5 separate regions of the Homo sapiens genome follow, and all the other regions are reported to be linked to region 3. Evidence: microRNA targets listed by miRTarBase, many of them from high-throughput screens and not tested one by one. Region 3 holds a microRNA gene; each other region holds the end of a gene's coding sequence.

Region 1 (4,305 bases), not on the chromosome of region 3:
TTGTTTTATCAGAAATTACCATTTGCAAAGGGAAATAATATTGGGCAATTTTAGAGACTCTAAGTAATTAGCAATACCATGGGAAAGTTGTGGTAAGACATGAGGTTTTGCATTTTCTCCACAATTAAAAAGCATAATGTAAAATTTAATATTTGTTGTCCACTAAATTACCTTGATGTCCAAAGAAAAACAAAAGGCATTTGAAATGTTCCCCTTGGTAACACTTTGCAATAAGTGGCACTAAATTACACGATAACTGCTATGTTACATGGAAGAGCCATCACTGTCAAACAGCTGCTATACATGTGCCTATATGAAATCTCAATGCTGTTACAATCATGAGTACATAATTACAAATGAGCCTGTACTTTTGATTGAGATATTTATATTTTTACAAAGAAATAAAAATAAATGAGGTGTTAGTTTCTTTGCCATATTTAGGAAAGTTAGTTTTCTTTCTCTATTTGTTATTTTAATTGTGGAGTTTCAATGAAAGATTAAGCATCATGAATCAATATGAGATCATCCAGTTTCTAGATTAAACTCCAATATCAGGTTCCTTAAACTGCTTCTTGGATTCTCTGGTAAAAGAAAACAAGTTGAAATTTCTCTCTCTTTTCGATTTCTCTTTCTCTCTTATACACACACATATACACACACACAAACACGCACACCATCAGTACTCTGCTCATGCGCTCTGTCTTTAATCTTGCACTCACAAACATTTCTTTTTCCTCCTACTTTTGATAATAATCCTATCTAGAACACCCAAAAATGGAAAATAAAAAAGAAAAGAAAAGTAAAATGCCGCTTAGACTTGATTTTGACGGAGGACAATCAATTTACACTGTAAACAGTACACTGGCAGAGAATAGCTACTTTTGGTAAAGAATAATGCTCCATATTCTACTAAGGGTGTGTGTGTGTGCACACTGCTTCCATTGAGTTCCCTACCTACTGTGCTCACTTAGAAGAGACAGAAATTGACTCTATGTGCACACAAGTGTGCATGTTCCAGACAATGAAATTGACATCATTCTCATTTAGAAATATTATGTCATTATTTTCTGACTTGTTGGAATAGAAATGAGCATAATTTTTACAATTTATTTTTTGTTTGGTTGAAAATTAAATAATTTTTAAAGGTATGAAAATATGACTTCATTGATATTGTTTTCTCCAGTTCAGAACATGGTGTCTCATTTAAATCAAACTATATTTAATAGGCAAACATTTAATTAGATCCCACAAATTATAATATACCAGCATTTATAACTAGTATAATAATCTAGTTGTTTTAGCTAACTGGTTTTATAAGAGTTCTAATGAGATTTTATATTACTCTGAAGGGTTAAAAGAGTCAAAAATCATGAAATGCAACCAATTTTGGATTTCTAATTTTACAGTGCTATAAATAATGATTGAGTTATTTAGGCAACAATTTAGTTGTTGGAGCCAAGTAGAATATAGATGAAATGAAGAGGGATGTAAATACGGCATCGATGAAGAGTAGCAATTTTGTAAGTGCATCCTGAAATTAGGCTTTACATAGTAATTGATGATGCAGTTTGTACAACTTACTTCTGTAATAAGAACCTTTCCATTTTGTACTAACAGGATGAATTTTGCTTTGTGGAGTCTTTCTAAAGATTATGCATTGAAAGATATGAACAGTTTATAAACCTATTCTAGTTTCAATGTGTCTAGTAGCACCTACCTGATTCTCTCAAACTACCATACTATATTAACATATTATTGCATTTTTCCACAGATGGTATGGAGTGAACTGTAAAAACAAGCATGCAATCACATCAATGCAGACTTATTTCCTTAAAATGTCATACTGTATATGATTTATTATGTTAACACTCAACCACATCATATTATTTATGTTCTGTATATTCTGAAAAAGTGCTGCTTGACTGACATCGTCCTTTTTCTTTTGTAAGAAATCAACAAGATAAATGCTTCAACAATCAAAAAAAAACTTTAAAATTCTAACATTTTCCTTAAAAGATTTATACTTTTTTGATAAATAATCAAAGATACAGCACCCTTGTCTTTCATTTGATATTAATACATGATGTTGCACTCAACCATTCTTATTACCCAAAAATATATTCCACAATACTATTTTTAAAACCATAGGCCATCATGCGTCAGACATCACAAGTATAGCTACCATACTGTCATATTTGTTTTCTTCTTAAAGGTGCAATGCTTGTAAATGGGATTTTTTTAAATCTAACTGGAGTTTTATTCTTTAGCATATAATAAATTTAATGAGAACTAATCTAACAATATTTTATTTTACTAGAAGAAATAATAAGACTTTAGATTAACTGTTTCATATTTAAGAATACAGCATTTCTTAATGGTTAAACACGCCAAAATTTTAAAATAATCCAGAGAAAGAGACTTTCACTTTGGAGTTAAAAGCATGGCAGAAATTCTCTATCACTCACTGTTTCATCAGTTTGTACCTCACAAAATGCATAGACAGGAATTTAATATAAAGAATTAGTTCATTTATACAGAAAACATATCTTAAACACTTCTTTTTGGCAAACCAACATAGGTAAGCAGCTCTGGAACTGCAAAATGAAAATTTGTAAATTTTTAGCAAACTAAAATTTATTTTTAGGTTATTATTCAACTGTGGTTGTAATTTAAAACCTGAGGCTGTGCACTGGTTGTTAGCTTAAAATTACCTTTCCTTATAACATTGTGCTTCCATTGTATAACAAATAAAAATTAACAAGAACTAGAAAAATTTGTTGTTGAACAGTGCTAGGACATACAGACAAAAATACTAATACATGTTATCTACTTATAATATTGGTTTAAGTAATACCTAAAGGGATATAATGGACGTTAGAAAATGCTTACTTATGACTGAATTACATACAGCCAAAAAAGTTAAATATGTATCAAATAATGTTTAATTGGATTTATTATATGCACTATATACAGATACTAAAATGTCTGAAAATTGTGCCCTATGGATACTTCAATATTGTTTAGGCAGGTGAATCTTTATGAAGCAAATAAATTATAGAATCAAATTAGAGAAATGAATTAAATATTTGTGATTCCAAAAGCAGTAAATCATTTGGAATAATTTATTGGTAAATGAAGCTACAATATCCTAATAGTAAGATCTCTATAATTATAGAAAATACCATGTCATGATTGCAATTCGTACACATGGCTCCTGTATCAAATACTATATTTCAATAGCAAATCGATACAGCTTTACCAGTATAATCTCCAACATTCCAAAAACTACACTATAGTGTTTTTTTTTAATTTTATGTTTTCTAGGACATATGTTTCCAAAGCATGTTGTCTTTGAAGACAGACATGTAGAAAACATTAATTGTAAACCTCTAACCTTCACTTATTCTTAAATACATTATGTCCTTCCCTAATCCTGTTACTTGTGAAAGCTGTCCAATGGCAAACTGATAAGGTCTATGACTTAAAGGGGAAAAAATGGGGGAAAAAAACTCTGCATACATTTTTTAATGTATAAAAACCACTCAATATAATGATCCAAGGAGATGATTAACATTGTTAAGGCTGTATATTCAAGCACTGTATGTTAAAAGAGCAATGGTGTGAAATTTAGGCAGTAAGAAATGTCCTGCATTATGGATGGTACAGTAATTAAAGAATGATGCTTTCAACAGCTGATTGTTGGTATACACTGGCTACTGATAGCAGTACAGTATGGGAGTTAATAAGGGTAGCAGACGATGGTAGAAATGACTTCTGAAAGATGATAGCCAGTTTTCTCCAGCATTCAGCCTGGTAGTAAAACTCAGAATCTTGGCCTGCATCTTAAATGAAATACTCTTTTTTCTCTTCAGCATTGACTTGGCTGCCTTCAGCATTGATAATGGCTGTATCAGCATCTGGTGCATCTTCAGCTCCTTTAGCTTCATTTGTTAAATACGTTCCTGCATATATTGGAAGAAAAATATGTTAGCTCTGTGAGACTGGTAAAATACCCAGCATTAAAGCTACATTATTTAGGAAGAAACTTTTGCCAGATTTTTGAGACCTAATATGCTACCCGATTGACTCTTCTAAAGTTGCACTGTTTTCTTACAGTTTTCAGGTACGCTGCAGGTGAAGTTATGGCTTGATTTACTACAGGCAAGAGCCAAACTGAAATGGGTAATAAGTAATTGTGACTTCTTTAATGATGGATAAAATCAATGTGAACCTTACAGCTGTAGCAAACAGGGTCTTTTGTTAAGATCTTTTTTTTTTTTTTTTTTTTTTTTTTGAGACGGAGTC
Region 2 (4,305 bases), not on the chromosome of region 3:
TCTACTTAAAAACTTAGCCAGGTGTGGTGGTGTGTGCCTGTAATCCGAGCTACTTGGGAGGCTGAGACAGGAGGATAGCTTGAGCCCAGGAGTTCAAGTGCAGTGAGCTACAACTGCACCACTGCACTCCTGCCTGGGCAACAGATTGAGACTCTGTCTTAAGAAGAAGAAAAGTACCAATTTGCTTTTCTAGAAGAGAAATTTTTAGTGGATTCACATTCCAACATGTAAAAAAGTGGCTGAAAATATTTCTAATAATGTGATACTTCTTGATCAGGTCAGATTAGTTTGCATGAAACAGTCCCAACACTTTCTATTGCAGAATAGATGCCCTTGCCCAAAGCAAGCAAATCAAGTAACAATTACAACAGATCTGGACAGTTGTAGCACCATGGGGATTTTCTAATCTGTTTTCTCTTTTGTTCTGCAGGTCTATTCCTTATCCTCGGTTTGATACTCTACCCTGCTGGCTGGGGTTGCCAGAAGGCCATAGACTACTGTGGACATTATGCATCTGCCTACAAACCTGGAGACTGCTCCTTGGGCTGGGCCTTTTATACCGCCATTGGGGGCACAGTCCTCACTTTCATCTGTGCTGTCTTCTCTGCACAAGCAGAAATTGCAACCTCTAGTGACAAAGTACAGGAAGAAATTGAAGAGGGGAAAAATCTGATCTGCCTCCTTTAGTTTGGAAGAGACAATGCCATTTTCTCCCTTGAGTAATCTTGTGAAACAGTCCACAGTTTCATCATTTGAGTCAAGTGGAGAACTAACCTTTACCTACCAAAGCCACGTTCCACGGCCCGAGGCTTAAACAGGACCAATGAGAGGCCACATCCAGCTACGCAAAGTTACTGGACATGCGGTCTGCAGTGCACATTATAAGGAATGGAACATGAAAATAGTATATAATCCTAGACCTGGAGTTGCCAAGTTCTGTCAGACTCCATCTCCCCCAGGTTCAATGAAGGATAATAATCTAAATCATTAGGGCAGCAGTTTCTCTGGTAACGGAAGAGACCGTCCGCCAGATCTGCAGGCTGTTTCTGCTCCAACACTGCTTGCTTGTGAGCATCTCTGCCTCAGAATGGGGTTTTGGGTTGGAGTTCTTGTTTTCCTCTGTTCTTTCAAGTTGTCTCCAACGAACAGAAAACTATAAACTTACTGGGGACAGGATGTGTGCTAAAGGGCACAGCAAGACACTGTCTTTTGCTTAGCTGACCAAAGGGGTCAGCAGGGATGGCGTGGAGTCATGCTGTGGAACTTATTCTAGGCTGAATCCTAGGGTAAGGTGGATCAACTGAACTGTCACTCCAGAGATTTTAGAAATTTGAGTAAAGAAACAATAAGGACCTATACAATCATATGAGAACAAAAATATGAAATCTTGCTAGTGAAGACGTATTTTTTCTTCTTCCCAGCAGCCAGGCTAGCACCAGTTCTGGCCCAGTCTCCTCTTCTTCTGGAGATCACATGTTTTTCTTCTAAGGTTAGGATTGTGCTTTGACTGCGAAAGGAAACCTCACTGTTTCCTCCTTCCAGGGACTGAGGTCTCCAAGCTAGCTGTGGCTTATGCAGATGTTCACTGGGAGGACCTGCCAGAATCTCGGCACTTGGGGGGAGACCTTTACTCCCAGTTTGGTGACCATGCTGTAGTCAGCTCTATTTCCAATCCCGACAGTAGCAGAATGGCATTCTACAACAAAAAGAAGCTAGTTATGGGAGTTAAGTTTTTGTAGTTACTGGTGTTGATCCTGAAAGCAGACTGAGATAACATTAAATTGCTGCAACTGAAGAACTGCAGCCAAGACCTTAATTCCAGGAAAGCACAGAGGACAAAGTTAATTCAAAAAGAGGCGCTAGATCAAGGTCACAGCACTGCCTACACCTGTTTACAAAAAGAATCAAATACCACTATGAATAAGGATTCAGGGGTTTTTAATCTACTTTCCATAAATTACCAATATCACTGATTCAGGAAGATAGTATCTCAGAATGACCAGAGCAGCACAGAAACAAGCTACTCTGACATTATGGGAGCTTCAAAATTGTATCATGATACAGAAACACTCCTTAGCACTTTAAGAAAGTGAGATGGAACTGCCAGATTTCTGGAAGGAGAAAAAGTGTAGGTATTTGGGTTCATTAATCTGCTCACTTGAGGACTTTGTTTTGAAAAAGTACCTTCTGTGGACAAGGTATTGTGCTACCAGCTATACAACCCTGACTTCAGAGTTTGCAACCTTGCCCTGAGTGAATCATGTTAAAGCTGTCTGAGTCTAAAGCACCGTATCTTGGTGCAGAACAGATAATTATACAGAGATGGAATGGGACAACCGCAGTTTTACTACATTCTGGTGTTTGGCCTATATGAGAAACCATCTTCTCACAGATTAAGGGCTAAGGGCAAAAGGGGTGGGAGGTGTGGAACTAGCCTTAATGAGTTTCCCATTCCTGAACCAAAATTCAAAGTGAGTGAGATGTAAATCCTGTGATTTTGGTGAAGAAAAAAACGGGTATCTTCATAGCAGCCTAGGAAACCTTAACCATATCTCTAACACCACACAGAAAGAGGCTGGAGGAGCCACTGGACAAAGCTTCTGTCTCTGTGTGTACATTTATAATGTTCTAACCAAGTCTCAAACCTTGATGAAAAACACAAAATTTTTCCATAAACTTATCAGAAGACTCACTTTTCTTTCTTTCTTGGATAGAGAAACCATTTTCTGACACTAGGTTTACAATCTCAGTGTCCTTACAAGTTAAGTCCTAAGCTCACAGGATCCTCCGAGCATGTCCATCACCTGCTCTTTGGCTAAGGTGGCAGTGTACCTCTAGATCAACCTGGGAACAGTCACAAGGGAGTGTGACTTCTTGGCCATAATAAACTCACTCGATAGTGTTTATGTTATTAATCTGAATGCAACAGAAGACAAAAGCACAGGCATGCACACACACAGAACCCCAAACCACTAAAAACTACCTAAACACTGACTTAGTAAATAGTAAAAAGGTAATGTTGGGACTTTTAAACCTTGAATCCATTAGCCAGGCTTGGGATGAAAGGACCATCTAAAATCATGCTAGTCTAAACCATGCTCTTCCACACAGCTGTTTAAAAACCACTGGGTATGAGGAATATGCTAGAAAGAAATGTTAAAAATAGATTGTTGGCTCACACTTATTTTTCTAATAAATAGGACCATTATTACTACCAGGAAAGTCTTATTTATTTTGCCTGAAATTGGCTTAAAGAAAGTCTCATGACGGGATGGGATGGGCTGCGCTTCTCAATGAACTCTGAGGCAGAAATATTTGCCTTGGATTCTGTGGATTCTTTAAACCTGTGTGCTAATAATTCAAACAATGTTGCATTAATTGTATAAGGGTTTTTGTATAGTTTTCAAACATCTGTGGTGTAATGATCTTTGTTAAACATATATTCTGTAAAGTGCCATAGTCTTTTTTTATGTGTAGCATATTTAAAAATATATATGTATATTATACATACACAAGTTTGTGTGAAAGATGTGCAATAACAAAGGTGTATGTATGTTTTGTTGTTTTGTTTTGGAAACTGGACAGGAGTCAAAACAGGGATGTTTGTTTCTGTTTTGGCAAGGAGAGTTCCACATTTTTGCCTTCATGGCTTATTCAGTAACCCATAATTTTAATGCTACACAAATCTTATGTGAAGAAAAGACTGGTATGAAATCATTTTTTCCTGGGTCTAAAATAATCGCTAGTGTTATGTCAAAGTTAAGCCCGCACGCCAGGCCCAGTTAATGCTAGTCTTTCATGTGAAATGTGAAGCTGCCATGTTGCCTTTTCTCTTAGTAGGATAACTAGTAGCTGGTACATAATCACTGAGGAGCTATTTCTTAACATGCTTTTATAGACCATGCTAATGCTAGACCAGTATTTAAGGGCTAATCTCACACCTCCTTAGCTGTAAGAGTCTGGCTTAGAACAGACCTCTCTGTGCAATAACTTGTGGCCACTGGAAATCCCTGGGCCGGCATTTGTATTGGGGTTGCAATGACTCCCAAGGGCCAAAAGAGTTAAAGGCACGACTGGGATTTCTTCTGAGACTGTGGTGAAACTCCTTCCAAGGCTGAGGGGGTCAGTAGGTGCTCTGGAGGGACTCGGCACCACTTGATATTCAACAGCCACTTGAGCCAAATATAAAATTGTATTTACAGCTGATGGACTCAATTTGAGCCTTCAAACTTGTAGTTATCCTATTATATTGTAAACTAATACATTGTCTAGCATTGATTTGGTTCCTGTGCATATGTATTTTCA
Region 3 (4,611 bases):
CCACACTGAACCAAGTCAGGAATATCTCTTCGTTTGTTTCTTCCTCATATTTTTGTATCTAGACCGTGCCTGCTGACCCTCAGCGAGGACGGTGCTACCACTGGGCCAGGGGGAGGCCCGGGTCGATGGAGAGGGCTCATGAGGTCCCTCAGCTCCTCCTCGGCTGCCTCCCCCCTGCCATGGGGTCCTGGGAGGTGCAGCCACAGCCACCCAGCTCCCGAAACTTGCTCACCTGAGTGAGTTTCTGACTCGTTGTAAAGTGCGAGCTGGTGTCAGGCCCGGCTCGGAACAGCTGCTCATTTAGAGAGAATGCAGCGTTCACGGCTCAGGCCGTCGGATGAATCCACTTGACAGAGATGTTTTTACAAGGGCCAAGGGCTCTCGCTCTGAGGATCCCTGACATATGTGACCTCTTCCTTCCAGCCACGGAGACCGCCCAGCAGTTGAAGCGGAGCGCCGGGGTGCCCTTCCACGCCAAGGGCCGGGGGCTGCTGCGGAAGATGGACACCACCAGTAAGGCCCCCACCCTGGTGCCGTGAGCCTTGCTTTTGGGGCAGAGCTAAGGGCTTCACCTGGAGACCCGCTCCCTGTTGGGGAGGTGGTGCCTGTGAATGGTCTTCAGGCAGCAGTGTTGGGAGCCCGTGGGAAAGCGAAGGCACTGGGGCAATTTCACCGGCTTCTCCCCTTGGGGAGCTCCCTGGGAGGATGTGTGGGCACGGAGACAGGAGGGCCGGGATCTGAGGACAGTGCTGGGCACGGAGACAGGAAGGCCGGGATCTGAGGACACCGCTGGGCATGGAGACAGGAAGGCCGGGATCTGAGGACAGTGCTGGCCCCTGCTCCTCTGCTGTTGGCACCGGTGGCTCTCGGCCTTCCCAGCTCGGGCTTTCGGCCCCAAGTGCTGCTCTTGGGTTCCGAGTGTCCCTGGGCGGCTCCGCGGGGAGGACGTGACCGTGCTCAGCTGCCCGTGGGGCTGTGCCCCCCGCACCCCTCCATCTGCCCTTCCTGATTTGTGCTCTCAGGGCTGGGCGTGAGCTTAAGCAGGATGCACCCTGATCACAGGAAGACGGCGTGCCCCTGGGAACCATGGCAGGGCATACTCACCCCAGAGGGTGCTGGATAGTGACCTGGGGGCCAGAGGGCAGGACGGGTGTCGTCCTGTGCTGAGACAGCTGGGTAAACTTGCAGATGGGTGGGGCTGAAAGGGCAGCCTTACAGGCGCTCTCCATGCAGCTCCCAGACCAGCCTGGCTTAGTTTATTTGGGCTCCCATAATCCCACAGTGTTCACATGGGACCTAGTAGAAGGCATCTTGGGTCTGCTGACTATTGTCGCTGTGTGGGGGGCCGTCCCTGGGTCATGTTCCTGCCCACCGCAGCCGAGGTTCCACCTTGCTCTCCTCTACCCCGCCTGGAGCAGACCCTTGTCTTTCCACCCCCACCAGGCATCCCAGGGCCAGGGCTGCACCTGCTGGCCCAGGGAGGGTGGGCCAGCCGTTGAGCAGTGTGTCCAGCCTGGCCCGGTGTGCTGATGGCACCATCCCCCGGGCGTCCTCTCTCCGGGCCTGGCACCATGAGAGCCACGCACGCCTTGGAGGGTGCGTGTGGGCGCTGGTGGGTAACAGCGTAGGTAGGCCTCAGGAGTGTCCTCAGGGGACGGGGAGAAGGCTTGGGAGGGCGGCCCTCAAGCCCAGGCGCCTGGCTTCATGCCCCTGCCGGTGGAGGCACAGGAAGGAGGCAGAGCTCAGCCCCCGCCACACTGGTGAGAGACTCCACCTGGTGAGATCCTGTGGCTGGGCTGGGGTGCCGCTGTCTTTGTTTGGTGTCTTGGCAAAGTGTGAGGTCGTGGCTCCAGGCGTTCCCCTGCTCCTTGAGGTCCGGGATCCTGGGGGTCCTGCCCGCTGCCCGCCAGGGGTTTGGCCCTTCCCCTCTGCGGCGCTAGCCTAGAAGAGGGTGGGACGTTCTGAGCTCGGGGTGGGGGACGTTTGCCGGTCACTGCTGCTGGCGCCCTGACTGTTGCCGTCCTCCAGCCCCACTCAAAGGCATCCCGAAGCAGGCGCCCTTCAGAAGCCCCACGGCGCCCAGCGTCTTCAGCCCCACAGGGAACCGGACCCCCATCCCGCCTTCCAGGACGCTGCTGCGGAAGGAACGAGGTGTGAAGGTAGGCCCGTCCCCCAGCTCCTGTGGCACCCCGGGGCCCGTTGCGCCCTGGTGCCGTCACTAAGGCAGGGCTGTGCTTGTCTTGGCAGCTGCTGGACATCTCTGAGCTGGATATGGTTGGCGCTGGCCGAGAGGCGAAGCGGAGAAGGAAGACTCTCGGTGGGGGTTGGGGCCTGCGTGTCGGCGGCAATGGGGGTCCCTGCGGGCCCTGCCCAGTTGGGGTGGGTTGTGCCCACGCTCGGCGGGCAGGGCTGTGCCCCGTGAGGCTGCTCTCCGTGGGTGGGTGCCTGCTTTTCTCCTCGCTCCTTGGTGGCCTCCCCTGGGAAGCTGTTTGATTCCCTGCCGCTGCCCTGAGCTGACACTGCAGACGCGCCCGGGCACTGGCGAGGACTCCTGTTTTGTCCACAGATGCGGAGGTGGTGGAGAAGCCGGCCAAGGAGGAAACGGTGGTGGAGAACGCCACCCCGGACTACGCAGCCGGCCTGGTGTCCACGCAGGTAGGGCTCGGGGCTGCACCCCATGTCTGGCACCACTGCGGGTGCCCCTTTTGTTCCGATTGTGGCCACTAGTGTGCTCTGTCGGAGAATATATATATGTATGTACATATGTGTGCAGTCTGTATTTATGTATATATACGTATATGTACATGAGAGGCAGTGTGGGCCGTGCCCTGACATGGGCATCTGACTCAGGCTTGGAGCGGGAACCTGCCCCACGCTTGCTGGAGGGGCTGCCAGGGGAGTCCTCCTCAACCCTGTGCCTCAGTGTCCCGTCAGGCAGGGCTGGTGGGACCTAAGCCTTGCACGTGGCCGTGAATGGGTGCAGGACAGGCCTGTGGGGGTGCTGGGTGGTCAGAGGCCTCAGTGTCCCGGAGACCAGGCCCTGCCTGCGGGTGGGAGGCAGCCACGGGGCGCGGCAGGTGCACAGAGGCTGCAGTGGGTCGTCTGAGGCCAGGGCCTGGAGGAGGCCACACTGTGGGGTCACTTCAGGATAATAAGCTCCTTTCTTCCCGCCGCTGCGTGTTCTGTGTTTCTTAACATGAGCATCTTCCTTTATATCAACGCTTCGTGGTAAGAAAAAGCATCGCTCCTTCTGTGCTCAAGATGGGCTGTTTGGGCTCCTCAACCCCTCCCCTCTCCTACACAGGAGCGGCTCAGTCCCCAACTCTGCTGGGGCGCCAGGGGCCAGGGGTCCCGTTGTCTAGCCCAGGGAGCTCGGGAGAGTGGCCCCCGCCTTCCTGCTCTAGCTCGGGGGGCCACAGCCTGTGGCAGTGGAGCTCCGGGTCGGGCCATGTGTTAGCACATGCCGGAAGCATGGCCTCTTCTGGAAGGAACCTTAAACTCTGTGTTCCAGAAACTTGGGTCCCTGAACAATGAGCCTGCGCTGCCCTCCACGAGCTACCTTCCCTCCACGCCCAGCGTGGTTCCCGCCTCCTCCTACATCCCCAGCTCCGAGACGCCCCCAGGTGAGTCTGCTGGCCCCAGCCTGGAACCAGCCAAGCTGCCTGCCAGGACATGACCTTGCCCACGGGCGCTGCCAGGGCTGCGGTTCTCACTCCTGCATCTCTGTTGTCCCCCTTCTGCCTCAGCCAGAATCTGCTGGGGGCAGATGCCCCGCTGTTCAGCTTGAGCTCCAAGACATAAACCAGCTGCTTTGCCCCACCCTGCCCGTCCTGGGCACAGACAGGCAGCGGCCCCAGGGGACACGGCAGGAAGGGGATTGGGTTCGAAAGGGTTTTCTGCCAGGTGACCCAGCTCTTGTTGCTGGGTAGGCGGGAGGGGAGCTGAGAGCCATCCCCTCCCAGACGGAGGGCACTGCCAGGCTCACAGCACCTCAGGCCAGGTCCTGGGCCCAAGGGGCTTGAGGATACAGCCTTCCTGTCTTCCCAGCAGTGCCTACGGTATGGGGACCTGCTGCAGGCCAGCAGCTGGCCAGAGTCCAGACATCTTATCTGCGAGTCTGGAAAGGCCTGAGACCACTGGCCTTGTTCCTCTGGCTGGGGCTTCTGGGGCCTGTGCCTTGGCTGGGGGCCACAGGGAGTTCTTGTCAGAGGGTAGCAGGACAGAGAAGGGGAGCTGAGCCTGTCACCTCCAGGAGCACTAGGGTTTGGGAACAGGGTGGGGGTCCAGCCCCCTCACCAGGCCCCGGTCTACTTGCAGCCCCATCTTCCCGGGAAGCCAGCCGCCCACCAGAGGAGCCCAGCGCCCCGAGCCCCACGTTGCCAGCGCAGTTCAAGCAGCGGGCGCCCATGTACAACAGCGGCCTGAGCCCTGCCACACCCACGCCTGCGGCGCCCACCTCGCCTCTGACACCCACCACACCTCCGGCTGTCGCCCCTACCACTCAGACACCCCCGGTTGCCATGGTGGCCCCGCAGACCCAGGCCCCTGCTCAGCAGCAGCCTAAGAAGAACCTGTCCCTCACGGTAGGTGTACACTGGTAGGGCCCACAGG
Region 4 (4,305 bases), not on the chromosome of region 3:
GCAAATGAGAGACAAATCTACTGGCCAAAATAAAGTCTTCCTCTTGCTGCAGCTGTGTTGTCTGCATGCTACCATTACAAAGGGACTCCTGATGGGGTCAAAACAAAGCAAAAAACGTCTTTATGAAAAATGGTCATTGGCCGGGCATGGTGGCTCACGCCTGTAATCCCAGCACTTTTGGAGGTTGAGACGGGTGGGTCACTTGAGGTCAGGAGTTCGAGACCAGTCTGGCCAACATGGTGAAACCCCATCTCTACTAAAAATACAAAAATTAGCCGGGCATGGTGGCGTGCGCCTGTAATCTCAGCTACTTGGGAGGCTGAGGCAGGAGAATGCTTGAACCTGGGAGATAAGGTTGCAGTGAGCCAGGATTGCACCACTGCACTCCAGCCTGGGCGACAAGAGTGAAACTCTCAGAAAAGAAGAATGGTCATTAAATGAAAGAATCAATAAAATCTGGTTAGTTTGTGTGAAGATACACTTAGGAAGCACATGGCTTTCAACAAAAATGTGATTTAGCGGAGAGCCTGGAGTCTGCTGGTATTTTGTCTTATCCTCCCACACCAAGGTGCGACTGTGTTCATTTATTAAATTTGATGCTCCCTGTTGATGATGTGTTCTTGGTAAATGGAATCCATGAACTTTTAATCTGTAGTTCACAACTATCCCTCCACGTGTGTTTCTTTTCCCAGGTACTGGTCTTCTTGGACATTAATCTTTGAATACTTGCTGACTGCTAAGAAATGACCAGAGGGGAAGAGGAGTTTGACATGTTAGGGCATTAAAGCAAAGGTGGATTTAAGAATTAAACCATTACATGCCCCTTCCAAAAGGCAGAAATCCATTCAAACGTGACTGTCCCAAATGCCTTATGTCAAATAAAGCAGATTGCACTGATGGACATCAGACTTGAAGGAAATGTTTCCAATTTTATATTTAAGGGGGGTGGTGGGTGGGAGGGGGCAAGTAAAGACGGAACAAGTTTAGTAGCAGTAATAGTAAATCATGTTTACATATGAGATTTATAGTCGTGGGAGGGGAATAAAGTTCTGTTATATTTCCTTGCTCGAGTTTCATACCAGATGCGTTGGTCCATAAAGGATTGTATCAAGTAGATGGGACAACATTCTGCTCTGAACGAAAAGTAATTTTAGAGACATAACCTGCTTACCAATGCCTGTCTTTGATTCATATTCTACTTTCAATAAAGCATGAAAGTGAAGAACTTGTCCTAAGTGTGGAAAAGTGTCTTCAGATTTAGACTCTTCTCCATGTCAGCTGCAGCGCCACCCGCCTTACACCTGCCCGGCCGTCTGTCTCTTGGTATTGGGTAAAGGAGGGGGCACCTGCATGTCTCCTGCAATGAGCAAGGAATTATGTCTCATGTTTTGACTTCAGAGGCTTTTTGCTTTGGTGCATTTCAGAAAGGATGGAGAACATTTATTATGTGTGAAAGCATCCTCTTCCGGTTTTGCTGTTATTCAAAAGTGGGAAATGTACCTGGCACGTTTGAAAATAAAAAATCTGACTACCTATCAGAAGAGTAAATCAGACTGAAGTACATTTGGATAACACAAGGTTTCTATAAAATTTGTTCTTCCTGTCCTCCATGTCACTGTTTCTTGGACCTCAGTTCTCTTTTTGAAAGCATTATTCCAAAATGCCCTGAGAGGGTCTCTTAGATCATTGTTTAAAAAAGGAAAAAAGTATATGGATGTGCTGTCCATCCAACTCAGGATTATCATTCTTAGCAACACGTAACCGAAGCAATATTCTTAAGAATATTGAAGGGGTTTTTTTAATTGAACTTAAGACTGGAGTTTTTCCTTTGAAAAAAAAAAAAAAGTTTTCTCTGTTGAGTCCGTCTGTGTAAGTTTGTGGCTGAGATGCTAGCTTAGGCATCTCTCTTGTTAACACTTTTCTTGGCCTTGGGTTTGTGCAAGGCTTTTTCCCCCTTTCATGAAAATGTGAACTCAGATCATGGATGGGGAAGGCAGATTTTGATTTGAGACCCGATAACCTTGGCAGCATCCCTTTTGAATAGCTCCTTTTGTCAGAGTAATTACGGCCATTTGGTAAAATTCTAACTTCGTGTTTGTGTTTCCCCTCTGTGTTTCTAATGTCTTCAGTCTGTGTCCCCTGAGGAGGCAGGGGGTCTCTAATGAGCCTATCTATGGGGGAAGGTGAGAGCTGCACACAGCCCCCTGAGAAACCATCCTAGGAGTGGAACCAAGGGACCAACTGTTCTGGCCTTGAGGTTGGCACAGGGGAAGGACTTGAAGTTGAGCTGATGGATCCTGATTTTTAGATCTCATTGTTTTATTAGCTCCAAAGAAATGAATGCAGGAGCCTAAAACTAATAACACAAACTTCTTCTTTCCCAAGGTAAAGACTTTTATAAAAGTTCGCACAATGCTTGATTGAAGCCACTTCCTTTTCCTTACAAAGAAGCTTGTTGGCCAGAGAAGGTTCTTTTTGGGGATTGACATAAACATGTTAGCAGCCCCCAGAAATCTGATATATTTTCCCCAATTTGCTGTTGATAACAGTTTTGAAATTTGTTACTTGGGTATTTTTTCCTCCTGCAATGCTACGAAATAACAGCCTTTTGTAAATCTTTCAGGCTGGTGGTACCTGCTCTGAGTACTGGCTTCTTTATTATCTCTGTCCAGGGGTGGGGTGGGCACCGAGTGAGCAGGTGATGCTGCAAGAGTCTGCCCTTGGCTCAGGGTCATCTTCCTCCTGCTCTGACAACTTGCCTTGTTCTGCCAGCACTGCTGAAAGTAACTGCAGCCCAGCGGCTCCAGTGACACTGTGAAGCTTTATTACCAAGGCAGGAGCTCAGGCCCTAGACCCGCTGAATCGGAATCTGCATCCACAGGCCACTCCTGTACTCTTTGAAACCCTGGGCTTGGGGCCTCTCCCACCCATAGTAGGCAGAGTTGCAAAGAAACGTATGCTTGTATTGAATGGTTTTGCATTGCCACCCTTCTCACTTGGTACAGGGAAAAACAGGTAAAGGGTATGACCTAAAGCCCGATTCTCGTTTCGTCTGTAATTATGAATAGATGGAGTCCATTTGCCTTCTGGACTGTGAAAAGTTCAGAGACTCTTTGTGTTGGGGTTCTAATGCCATGCATGTGTACTTTTTTATATTAGATCAGTCTCCGGTATAAGGTATTATGAAGCTTGGGTCTTTTCCCCTTGATATTTCTGACCATTCTTTAATCTGAAACGAATGTGTTCAGCATACTACACTGGTACAGATTGTCACCACGAACTGAAATATAGGCTGCATTTGGGTGTCTTCATTTCCTGGGGAGTAAGTATCTTTCTGTGTATTTATGAACTCTATTGTTTAGAATTACTGTTACCTTCCTGCCAAATTTAAAAGATATGAGTGTCCCTTTATTTCTGTGGGAGCATAATCCATAGTGAATTTTTTGGTTATTTTAAATGTGCTTTTGGTTGGTCTATGTGGTCATAGATCTGTTCATCAGACTCTGGTTAATATTGGAATCTAATGCTCAGGTTGAATAACCTGTTTTAAAAACCCAAGGGATGATTTATCTCTGTCTAAACAAACCGCTGAAGCGAAATGAGCAAGAAAGCCTGTCTTTCCTGTTACCGAATCATGGGGCAGAATCATATCCTTTCTCTTGGGTACTTTAGTCCTCAGCTCATTCAGTGTTAATAGGGGACTGCGAACAGAGTGCATGCAGATTAAAAGCCAGCGTTTTCATTTTAAGAAGATTTTCCCAGCCTGAGAAACATAGTGAGACTTCATCTCTATAAAAAAGCAAAAATTAGCCAGGTATGCCGGTGGTCCCAGCTACTCTGGAGGCTGAGGCAGGATAATTGCTTGACCCCAGGAGGTCGAGGCTGCGGTGAGCTGTGATCACACCACTGCACTCAGCTTGGGCGACAGAGTGAGACCTTGTCACAAAAAAAAAATGTGCATGTCTGTGATAACGCCCCATACTCCCACCCCCACCCCAGAGTACAGGGTTTTGTCAACAACATTTCTACTTCTGAAAGCTGGCATCACCACCCCCACCCAAAACACACACACACGCGCGCGCGCACACACACACACACACACACACACCCATCTCCTAGACATTCTGTAGGCAGAAATACTGGCTGGGGATTTATCAACATTATTCGAACCCTCTATTTTTCATTAAAGTACAAATTATAAACATTTGTAAAATGGTAGGTAGCACTTTGTTGATTTCCCTGAGCAACATTTCTGTGTCAGGTAGTGTGTGCCAGGTAGACAGTCTCATTGGCAGACAAAACCAC
Region 5 (4,305 bases), not on the chromosome of region 3:
GATACGAAAAGCACTTGAAACCGCTGCTTTTGGTGTTTCTGTTTAGAACACTAGCTGTCCACTCCTGAGAGGGAAATTCTGTTAAAGCTAATGACTCCTCCTGGGGTGCTTGTAACCTGATTCTAGTATAAAAGCAGCACTGCCTATTCCAAAGAGAATGAAAGCAAATTACAAACATAATTGGGAAAAGAAAAAATACTATACACTCCGATTTCTCAGGACCCAATAGATTTTATTTCAGGTGGGGATAAGGGACAAGCAATGTGAAGACAGGGAAGGAAAGAAGGAAGTCTCTATGTTCTGAAGGACTGCCTACCCCACTGTTGAGAGTGCCACATTCTGCCCTTTTAGCAATTTTAATTAATTTTTACTAGGACTTTGGTAACACCACAGAAACCCTGTGGCTTCCTGTTAAAATGACTGTGTTACATGCCTTATTTTTATTAAAGTGGAATTTAACAAATACTTTTATTATTTTGAAGCATTTCATCAATTCTCGGTGGAAGCACTACATCATCGAATGGGAAATCAACAAATGAAAAATGAAAAAAAAGATTATCCATTCACAGTAAGCACCATTTTACTAGAAAGAGAGATAAACTTCAAAAAGACAGAACTAAAAGTCTTTAAATATAAGACTGTATTCTTCTATATACTACACATCAATTTGTAGTGGCACCAAAGTGTCGCCTGCTCTGCCTGAGGGAGCACTCCCCCTAGTGATTTTCCATAGGAAATAAAGTTAAACTTTTATTAAAGTAAAAATTCCTGGGTCAATTAGAACACAAATAAGGAGGAAATTCTTTATAAAATAAGTACCTTGATGTTAGGGTGACTTAGAAACAATTCATTAGTCTTTGAATTCTAAATAGCTGAAGACATGCAGCTAAAACAATAATTTTTATTTTAATTTTTTTTGTTTTTGAGACGGAGTCTTGCTCTGTCACCCAGGCTGGAGTGCAATGGTGCAATCTCGGCTCACTGCAACCCCCGCCTTCCAGTTTCAAGTGATTCTCTTGCCTCAGCCTCTCAAGTAGCTGGGATTACAGACACCCACCACCACACCCAGCTAATTTTTGTATTTTTAGTAGAGGTAGGGGTTTCACCATGTTGGCCAGGCTGATCTCGAACTTCCTGACCTCAGATGATCCCCCTGCCTCGGCTTCCCAAAATGCTGGGATTACAGGTGTGAGCCACCACTCCCGGCCTAAAATAATAGTTTTAAATGTACAAAAATATCCATCCTTACTGAGCTGATTTATATTTGTTTTAAATTCTTTTTAGATTCAACTTTTAAAAAATACATTAGGCCAGGCATGATAGCTCACGCCTGTAATCCCAGCCCTTTGGGAGGCCGAGGCGGGTGGATTGCTTGAGCTCAGGAGTTCAAGATTAGCCTAGGGAACATAGTAAAACCCCATCTCTACAAAAAATACAAAAATTAGCAGGGCATGGAGGCATGCACCTGTAGTCGTAGCTATTTGGGAAGCTGAGATGGGAGGATTGCTTGAGCCTAGGAGATTGAGGCTGGAGTGAACTGTAATCCTACAACTGTACTCCAGCCTGGGCAACAGAGCAAGATCTTGTCTCCAAAAATAAAAATAAAAAAACTGAGATCAAAATAAATTTAGAGCTAAATCATCAGAATTAAGTAGTGACTAATAAGATGCTAAAAGAAAATCTGAAATTGGAGAGTCTTTCATCTAACAGAGTTACTAAATGCCCATTATATGTTAGGCGCCGTTCTTTGTTCACACTAGTAACAAAAGACAAAAAATAACTATGCTATTTCACATTTAACAGTCCTTAGAATGTTGACTGATTAGATATTTTCCCAAGTATCTTTTAGGTTTGTTCTGTTCTTGGTGGTTATCTAAACAAAAAATACTCTGACAACATTTAGTAAATTCATTTGTTTCCTTCTTGAATACAAACATTTTAGAAAATTCCAACTTCTTTTGTAGTCACTGCTAAATTTTGTATGCTGAGATTGAGACACTTACTAGTTATCAGGTGCTGACCCTGGCCACCTCCCAGAATTGTCCATATGCCTGGGAAGCAGTGCCTGCCATTGTGCTGGAGTAGCCTCCTTGCAGCACACTTTGCTGTAATACTCTCCAAACCAATTTTCTCTAATGCTATGTGACCTATATTAAGGTAGGGCATTCCAATATATCCTCCAATTTTGGTGAATACAATTGAATGGTTCTCAACAATGAATAGTTTGGCACACTTTTATTTGGGGGAGGTGGGGTGGTCACAATGACTAGCATCAGTGGGTAAGGGCCAGAAAGGCTAAATGAATCCTGCAATGGGATGACAGGTTTTTATCCTAAAGAACTGTCTCACTCAAAAGGCCAATAGTGACTGTCCATGGAGGGACACTCAGCTGTTGTCACCTGGTACAGTAACAAAGACAGAAGCTTCACTTTACTCATGTAATTTTTTCTACTAGACAGGAAGATAATTTTTGCATTTTATTAAATATATTTATATGCCACAAAAATTATTTTAGTGACAACTACCAGGAAAGTACAAAATCACTTAATAACTGGTTTTCTACACCTTGATTTGTCAAGAAACTCATAAGCAAATGGAAAGTAGTAAGTACTGATTGCAGTTACTTACAGCAAACAGTTTTGAGAAGAAGAAGAAAACCTGTAACACTGAAAATTGCTTTATATCCCATTCATAGATCTCTTCAAAAGGTCTACTTTAAAAATAAATCACATAAAGAATTGTTCAGACTTGTTTGGTGATGCCTCAACTTCAGAACATTTGCAAGGAAATCACATGTAAAAGCAATCATCTCATACAATTAAATGCTATTAAAGAAAAAAAAAGTTTCCTTTAAAACAGTGGTTCCCAAAATTTAGCAGGCATCAGAATCTCCTGAGGGAAGCTTGTTAAAATACAGAATGCTGGCCTCCTCCCCAGAGTTTGCTACAAGTTTGCAGGCCATTCTGATGTTGGTGCGGGCACAACACTTTGAGAACCACTACTTTAAGATCTAGTCTCTAGAATTCAAACTAATAAGCAATGCCCATATGCCTTTGCTTTTTCTAATAATAAATAAATAAAAGATCATTTCAGGTAGCTGCATCAAACTTTAAGCCTTTAGACTTTTTTTTTTTTTTTTTTTGAGGCAGAGTTTTGCTCTTATTGCCTAGGCTGGAGTGCAATGGCGTCATCTCAGCTCACCACAACCTCCGCCTCCCGGGTTCAAGCAATTCTCCTGCCTCAGCCTCCCGAGTAGCTGGCATTACAGGCATGTGCCACCACGTCCGGCTAATTTTTTGTATTTTTAGTAGAGATGGGGTTTCTCCACGTTGGTCAGGCTGGTCTCGAACTCCTGACCTCAGGTGATCCGCCCACCTCGGCTTCCCAAAGTGCTGGGATTAAAGCCACCACACCCGGCCACCTTTAGACTCTTGAAATGTTACGCTGACTCACAATTATTCCCATGAGTTCAAAAGACAGAACTAAAGGACAGTCCTGAATAATCTATGACTACAGGAAAACATTTATTTACATGCCCTCTACAAAATGGATTTACAAAACATAGTAACTATTAGGGTACATGACCTTGCTCCTATCTTCCCCATTGTGCTTCTTCTCTATAGAAAATCCAATATGAAATGACAAAGAGTACTGTACTCAGAATAAGAACTTCATCTATCATAAATGTACACATAAATATCAGTGAATTGTCATACTCAAGACTCAGATTCAGGAACTTCTTCATCAGGGCAGCAGTAATATTCCACAAAACATATTTGTCCATCTTCATTTCTAATCATATACTGTAATGAAAGGAAGCCTCTGTTATCTGTCCGAATAGATACCTTACAAGATAGGACTAATGCCTTTGTAGAGGGTTTCAGTAAGGAAATCTTGTATCTGTAGAAGAAAAAATAAAACGCTGTTATATCAACACAGTGAACACTGCTCAGAACTCCCAAGTAAAGGATAAAAAGTAGCAAATCTAAGAATAAAATCAAGTACTTATCCAATTTGCTAATATTTTCTGTTTTAAAATTCATTCACTGTTAGAACCCTACATCCCCTAGTAAGTCCAGCACTCTACTATTCATTTTTATAAAATGCTGTGCATTTTAATTAACAGATTGAAAGTGTTTTTATTTAACAGAAATCTGGTATTTAACCTCCTCTTTATCACCAATGACAACCTCTATATTAAGAACTGACCTGTTGACTTGGGTCTGATTACAATGAAATGCTTCCATCAAATCAGAATCTTTGGGATAGTCAAGGTGGGAACTTCCTGCATTTCCAAAAGTAGAT

Evidence for each region. Region 3 holds the annotated microRNA hsa-miR-943 (CUGACUGUUGCCGUCCUCCAG, at 2,008-2,028, shown strand). A microRNA usually pairs through its seed, bases 2 to 8, with sites in the 3' UTR of a target mRNA and lowers its output. Matches are read on the target gene's strand: a 7mer-m8 pairs with bases 2 to 8, a 7mer-A1 pairs with bases 2 to 7 and ends in A, and an 8mer does both.
Region 1: the mRNA of CADM2 is a reported target of hsa-miR-943. Seed matches in the 3' UTR shown: 7mer-A1 at 1,919-1,925.
Region 2: the mRNA of LHFPL2 is a reported target of hsa-miR-943. Seed matches in the 3' UTR shown: 7mer-m8 at 2,851-2,857.
Region 4: the mRNA of USP48 is a reported target of hsa-miR-943. The part of its 3' UTR that is shown has no 7-base or 8-base seed match.
Region 5: the mRNA of RAD1 is a reported target of hsa-miR-943. Seed matches in the 3' UTR shown: 7mer-m8 at 2,365-2,371, 7mer-A1 at 1,815-1,821 and 7mer-m8 at 418-424.

Annotation. Positions count from the first base shown.
Region 1 is chr3:86,066,322-86,070,626 of GRCh38, reverse strand. It overlaps CADM2 (cell adhesion molecule 2), which reads right to left. Exons shown (of 10, transcript NM_001167675.2): 10 at 1-3,962. The coding sequence ends at 3,844. Among named protein-coding and RNA genes, the nearest start is that of CADM2-AS2, 240 kb to the right of the region's middle.
Region 2 is chr5:78,485,279-78,489,583 of GRCh38, reverse strand. LHFPL2 (LHFPL tetraspan subfamily member 2) reads left to right here. Exons shown (of 5, transcript NM_005779.3): 5 at 431-4,305. The coding sequence ends at 687. Among named protein-coding and RNA genes, the nearest start is that of SCAMP1, 130 kb to the right of the region's middle.
Region 3 is chr4:1,983,820-1,988,430 of GRCh38, reverse strand. It overlaps MIR943 (microRNA 943), which reads left to right and starts at 1,954; the gene lies at 1,954-2,047. NELFA (negative elongation factor complex member A) reads left to right here. Exons shown (of 11, transcript NM_005663.5): 4 at 424-513; 5 at 2,029-2,159; 6 at 2,248-2,317; 7 at 2,567-2,655; 8 at 3,512-3,623; 9 at 4,318-4,583.
Region 4 is chr1:21,675,827-21,680,131 of GRCh38, reverse strand. It overlaps USP48 (ubiquitin specific peptidase 48), which reads left to right. Exons shown (of 27, transcript NM_032236.8): 27 at 693-1,834. The coding sequence ends at 715. Among named protein-coding and RNA genes, the nearest start is that of RAP1GAP, 8.6 kb to the right of the region's middle.
Region 5 is chr5:34,905,049-34,909,353 of GRCh38, forward strand. RAD1 (RAD1 checkpoint DNA exonuclease) reads right to left here. Exons shown (of 6, transcript NM_002853.4): 5 at 4,210-4,305; 6 at 212-3,900. The coding sequence ends at 3,717. It also overlaps a transcript of TTC23L not described here. Among named protein-coding and RNA genes, the nearest start is that of RAD1, 8.3 kb to the right of the region's middle.